Linked DNA regions of Homo sapiens: region 1 is linked to region 2. The links come from fine-mapping of genetic effects on gene expression. A gene starts in region 2. The other region holds a variant in brackets. All regions are shown on one strand. Distances are between the middles of the regions.

Region 1 (2,918 bases), 110 kb before region 2:
ATGAGCAGAAAAGAACTAGCTTGAGCAGAGGAAATAAGAGGAGTTGGGGAAATGTTGAGTTCAGTTTGTGATATTTGAGTTTGAGATTTTTGTAAGGCATTCAAGAAGAGAAATCAGATTGACATTTGTAAATGCAAGATCTCTAGAACATAAAAACTGGCATTGTTTCTTCAGCCACTAACCACTGTGTGTTTGTCACTCAATTTCATAACATGGTGTCCACTGATGAGTGAGGGCTGGAGGAGAGACATACTTAGTAAGGAGGAGATTCAAATTTCTGAATCTACTCTGCCACACACTAGATGTGAGACCTTGGGACAGTCATGTCATCTCTCTGAGCCTAGGTTTCCTCATTGGTAAATGGAGACAATATTAATACCTCATGGGTTGTTTTGGGGATTAAATGAGATAATGCATGGAAAAAATCTTGAGAGAAGTAAGTGCATACAAAATTTTGGTTGAGTGAAACTATGAATAAAACAATAGTTTGAGCACCTCCCAGGGGAACCAGGAAATTCCAGATGGGGAGGTGCAAGTCAGACAAGGCATATCTGGGACATAAGTGGGAAGTGGGAGTAGAAAGGACCTTTCTGGAAGTTCCTGGTGTTTCCCTAGAGACTCTAGAAGTTTAAGAGGTGGCCTTCAGGAAGGGCTACTGGGAAGTCACCTGCTTGTCTGGGCTTCGGGCAGACCTGCCCTTGAGATGTCTGTGCCAATTCCTCCAGGAGGGGAGCTGTCTCTGGGGACTAGGTGGGGCTCAGAAAAGGGATAAGAGGCCAGAAACTGAGGGCTTGTGGGCTGAGCAGATCTGAAGTGGGTTAGTCATTGACTGGGCTGGGGCAGATGGAGATACAGAAAAAGGGAAAGGATAAAAGGAGTATAACATCACAGCAATAATGTAAGAAACAGTGCATGTGTATGTGATGGGGTGAAGAGGTTGAGTGACAGAGACTGGAAATAGAATGAGAAAGCAATCAGCACTACAGCAGTGCCTGTCAGAGCCTAGCAGAGGGCCTGACACTCAATTGGTAGGCAGTATTTGTTGAATGAATGTATGAATGGAGCAGGGGGCAGGCTGGGAGGAGAGAGAGAGAGAGAGAGAGAGAGAGAGAGAGAGAGAGAGAATGATATGAGTGGTGGAAGACTGGATCTGTAACTCGACAAACATTATTGATCCCCTATCGCCTGCCAGGTACTGAGAAAATAACAGGCTGAAGCACAGCACTGAGTCACAAATAGCTTCAGGCCATAACAGGCTGGCGACTGTGTAGAAAGCAATATGGAAAGCAGTCACTGTTCTCAGTTGTCTGAAGTGTCTGAGTGTCCACCAGAAAATCCTTACCCTGCCTGCTTCTGTGGTGATTTAGTGTCCCTGTACCTACTGTATGTCAAACTCCAGGAAAATCAGCAAGCCTGTTTTAATATCAGTTATCAGTACATTAAACTGGGAAGAAAACTCATTTGGAATGCCAAGAACTGTCACCTGATTTATGTCTTTTGATTCTTACCAGAATTCTGAAAGGTAGGCATCATGAATCATTCCCATTTTCGATATGACAAACCTGAGGCTTATAAGTAGAATGGCTTGCTCAAGATCATAGCAGAACCAGGATTCAAACCTAGTTCTCCTATTCATTGGTCTGTTTTCTGTTCTCTCATCCCTGGCTGCATTCATGAATCCTGTACACATCCAGCCCCAGCACTGCCTCCCAAAGACTGGATAAATGGAAACACACATATCTGAAGTCAGCATATGTTGAACAGAAGCATATGCTGCAC[A/G]GGAAGAATCTTGGCTTTAGTATAGATTTTACATCAGGGACTCTAATATAAAAAGGATCCCAGTGCAATTCATTCATACATTCATTACTCATTCACTCATTTAATCACATATATTCATATATACTTTGAACATAGGCTGGTCTCATGCTATGTGTCCCAAGTAGTTGTAAGTATAAACAGAAGTCAGAAATGGTGAGTTACATAGAGAAGTTCTCTCTATTAAGTGATGGGAAAATTAAAGAGAACAATGATAATAGCTAACGTTTATTGCATGCTTACACTGTTCCAACTACTTCCCGTGGTTTAACTTCTTATATCTTCAAAAATAACTGTATAAGGTATAGGTACCATTATTTTCTCCATTTTATGGTTGGAGAATGGAGACCCAGAGAAATTATACAGCTTGCCTAAGGTGACACAGCCAGTTAAGTGGCAGAGCCAGGATTTGAATCCAGGAAGTCTGGCTCCAGAGTTCCCAAAATGACAATTCCTGGCTGGGATAAGTGCTATGTTTTCTATCCTCTCTTCTCAATCATCCTGACATTCCTTCTCTGCTCAAAGGAGATCTCTCTCCCTTTTTGTATCATTCTCTTTGCCAGTCCATGCTTCTGTTTCTTCTGTTACCCTCACCTAGAGTGACCCTCCACTGCTTTATCCTCCTATCCAAGTCTCTGAATTCTTATGCTGAAAATATCACTTCCAATGTTGTCAACTTCTTCCTGAAGCTTCACATGAACCCACCTTATCAATGTGAAGTGAATTCTTTCTCTTTCTCTGTAGAGTAAGTATGTAGCACTTACTATATTCTGCTGATATTTTTGTTTTTATATTATTACTTGTATACTTATATTTCCTTCCTCTCCCCACTGCCAACTAGATTGCATCTTCCTTAAGAGCTAGGACCATGTCTTGAGTCCTGAAAGTGTTTGGCGTGGTGCTGAGGGGTTGTAGGTGTCTGTTTGTACAGAAGTGAATTATCTGATGCTTGGTTTCCCAGATATACATGAGCTTCATGCAATATGTCTTGGTGTATGAGTCAAAATCACCTGCTTCCTAAAGGGACTTTTCACATCTTTGATGCAAGTTGTAGAGGTGGTGTGGAGCATAGGTTTGATGATGCCATAGAAGACAACAATGAA
Region 2 (2,918 bases):
AGGAAGAGGAGGATATTTCGTGTTCAAAATATCTGGACTGTAGGGAACAAGTGGACAGTGAGAAATCCAAGGAAGCATAGGTCCATTGTACATTTTTCACTTTGTATCAAAGGATTTTCAGATTACCCACTCTGAATTTTCCTTATCTGTAAAGTGGAGGAGTAATATCGACCTAACATTATTGTTGTGTTGGGTTAGAGATAATACATGTACAGTGCCAGGCACATAGTGAACATTACATTTTAAAAAGATGCTTATTTTTTCTTCTTTTCAAAGGGGGCATCCAACTGGTGTAGGGCCCTAAAGATGCCCTTTCCATCTCAGTTCCTACAGTCCCTTGCTCCCACTCCTCTCAGGGCCAGGCCAAAGCTTGGATGCTACCCTGTTGCTTTGTTACCCTGGGGCTTTGGGCCAGGAGTTTTTGGGGGAAGCCAGGTTCCACTGCCAAGGGAGAGGTTCAACCTGGGATTACACCCAGGAAATGCCATCTGAGGTTTCAGCCTTGCCACTTGGACCCCTAAACCAGGATCTTTGCCTACTGGGGGATTGAGGGGAGTCAGGGAAGCTGGGCTTTTTGGCATGGCTGACCCCTCCTCAATCACTAAGGAAATTGTACCATTTATATTCAGCCCAGATGATGAATCTTATACCGGGGGAACATGAGAACAGCCCCAAGCCTTGGGTTAGTTGGCCACGCCCATTTTGGCCTTTCACCCCACCCCCACCCCCAACTTTGGCTGCCTAGCCGTTTTACCCTTCCCTCCTACTCCACCCCAAGCACTTTCCCCACCCTTAGGCAGCGCCGCAGTGCTTTTGAGGGTGACATATCTGAAATGTCTAATGGCTCGCCCCCTGCATAGCTTTGAGGGCTCCAGGAATCAAAGGGGTTGGGCTCGGCGGGGTGCCGGGTACATGCTCAGCTGAGGGTTTGGAGGGAAGACTGAGAAGGAAAAGGGGAGATATCTACAGTGCCCAGAGATTCTCACCGAGGCAGGTCTGGGATCCGGGAAGGAAAGGAGAAAGGCAGGAATGAAGCGGGTGGGGGGACAGACTGGGGAGCAGTTTGATTTACGGCAATTAATTACAGCAAGGAGACTCTTTCGGGGTTTTGTTTAGGATCCGGTGGCCAGTATTTAATATTCAGCCACTGAACTATGCGCTCATTTGTAGGTACTTACGGTAGTTGAAGGCCCGCTCCGATGTTGGAGATTCTCCAGTGAGCTCCTCCAGATGCAGCAAACTGCCCGGCATGAGAAGAGCTGTCTAAGGACAGCCTCTTCGGCTCTGAGCCCCGCCTTCCTCTCTCCCCCGCCCGCCTGCCGGCCCGCCCCAACCTCCTCCCCTCCCTGCGCCGGGCTCGGGGAGCCCACCTACACCAACTCTGCCTGGCACCTGCAGTCCTCTGACGACGGGGATTTCTACGCCCCTCCCAGCTCCCCGCCTCTCTCCGGACTCCCTGCAGAGGTTGCTGGAGCCAAATTCAGGCCCCTGCCCCCTCGCCTGTCTCTCAGAGTTTCACTGGGTCACTGTATTGTGGGGGGGAGAAGGCCAGCTCTCAAGAAGATTTGTAGATCCTTCTCTCCAGCTCCCCAATACCTTTATCGGGATCTCAGATCTTCCCCTGCCCATTTTAACGCCCCATTTATGCATAAACATCACCACAGTTTAAGTGCCTACTGTGTGCCCCTGGGCCCTGGGATCCATTATTTCTCATCTTCAGAGCAACTCTGCAAAATAAGTGTTACTCCCCTCAGTTTTACAGATGAGGAAACGGAAACTCAGAGAGGGTTAAGTAACTTGGACAGCCTTCAAAGTCCATCTTGGGGTAAAAGCCCAGGCTTTAGAGACATACAAATGTATATTTTAGTCCACATTTTACATTCAATAGTTGTGTGACCTCAAGCAAGTGAGTAAACTCTCTGAGTCCCAGGTTCCCCAACAGTAAAGTAAAAAACAAACAAACAAACAAAAAACAGCAGAACCTATTTCACAAGGCCTCAATGGGATGATGTAAGTAAAACTAACAGCACAATAGGCCTAGCATGTAGTAGGTGCTCAATAAATGGTAGTGGTTGCTGCTGCTACCACTACTACTACTACTATTAATCTGTAAGCCCTTCCCCAAATGTCTTAGAGTAACATGATTTTAATAATATAGAGCAACCTTTCACAAATGTTGATTATGAAAGACTTTTTATAATGATAATGTATGAATAAGACACTAATCAAAGCTCCTGATATATAACATATGATGAGATTAAAGTATAGCATCCAATGGGCTCACAGACTAATTGATAAGAAATATCAACATGATAGACTAATTGGCTAAAAAATAGACAAATTTTTCTTTATGTACATTTCCTTTTTTTTAAGACAGTCTCACTCTGTCGCCCAGGCTGGCGTGCAGTGGTGCGATCTTGGCTCACTGCAACCTCCACCTCCCAGGTTCAAGCAATTCTCCTGCTTCAGCCTCCCGAGTAGCTAGGATTATAGGCGCGCACCACCACACCCAGCTAGTTTTTGTATTTTTTAGTAGAGACGGGGTCCCACCATGTTGGCCAAGCTGGTCTGGAGGCTCAGCCTCCTAAACTGCTGGGATTACAGGCGTGAGCTACCATGCCCAGCCTTTTATGTACATTTTCTACCTGCATAAAAGATTTCAAATTATCTAATGAAAAACACTTTAATTCAAGAACAAACTGTGTAAAAATAAAGTAACAGCTCTTTTACAGCCAAATTGATTATCATATCTTCATGCATCAGGTGATATCAATTGTGGCTTCCATTATAAACTATAGATTATTGTGTAATGAATAGAATAGGCATATGAATAAAAAGATGTGTTTCTGGGCAAGTTATTTAGCCTCCAAGCCTCAGTTTTCTTATTTGTAAAATGGGGATAATAATTGCACTTACTA

Which allele goes with the higher level. Alleles are on the strand shown, and positions count from the first base shown. SD is a standard deviation of normalised expression in the study named.
For the expression in thyroid of the gene that starts at base 1,271 in region 2, allele A in region 1 goes with a higher level than allele G (small effect, 0.28 SD a copy in GTEx).

Evidence for each region. PIP is the estimated chance that this variant, and not a neighbour inherited with it, causes the effect.
Region 1: its variant is fine-mapped to the expression of IGSF1 in thyroid (GTEx, PIP above 0.99).

The regions. Positions count from the first base shown.
Region 1 is chrX:131,177,515-131,180,432 of GRCh38, forward strand. No RefSeq gene overlaps it. Among named protein-coding and RNA genes, the nearest start is that of IGSF1, 110 kb to the right of the region's middle. The variant A/G (reference allele first, on the strand shown) is at 1,780.
Region 2 is chrX:131,288,036-131,290,953 of GRCh38, forward strand. IGSF1 (immunoglobulin superfamily member 1) reads right to left here and starts at 1,271. Exons shown (of 20, transcript NM_001555.5): 1 at 1,179-1,271. RefSeq lists an enhancer at 2,750-2,918.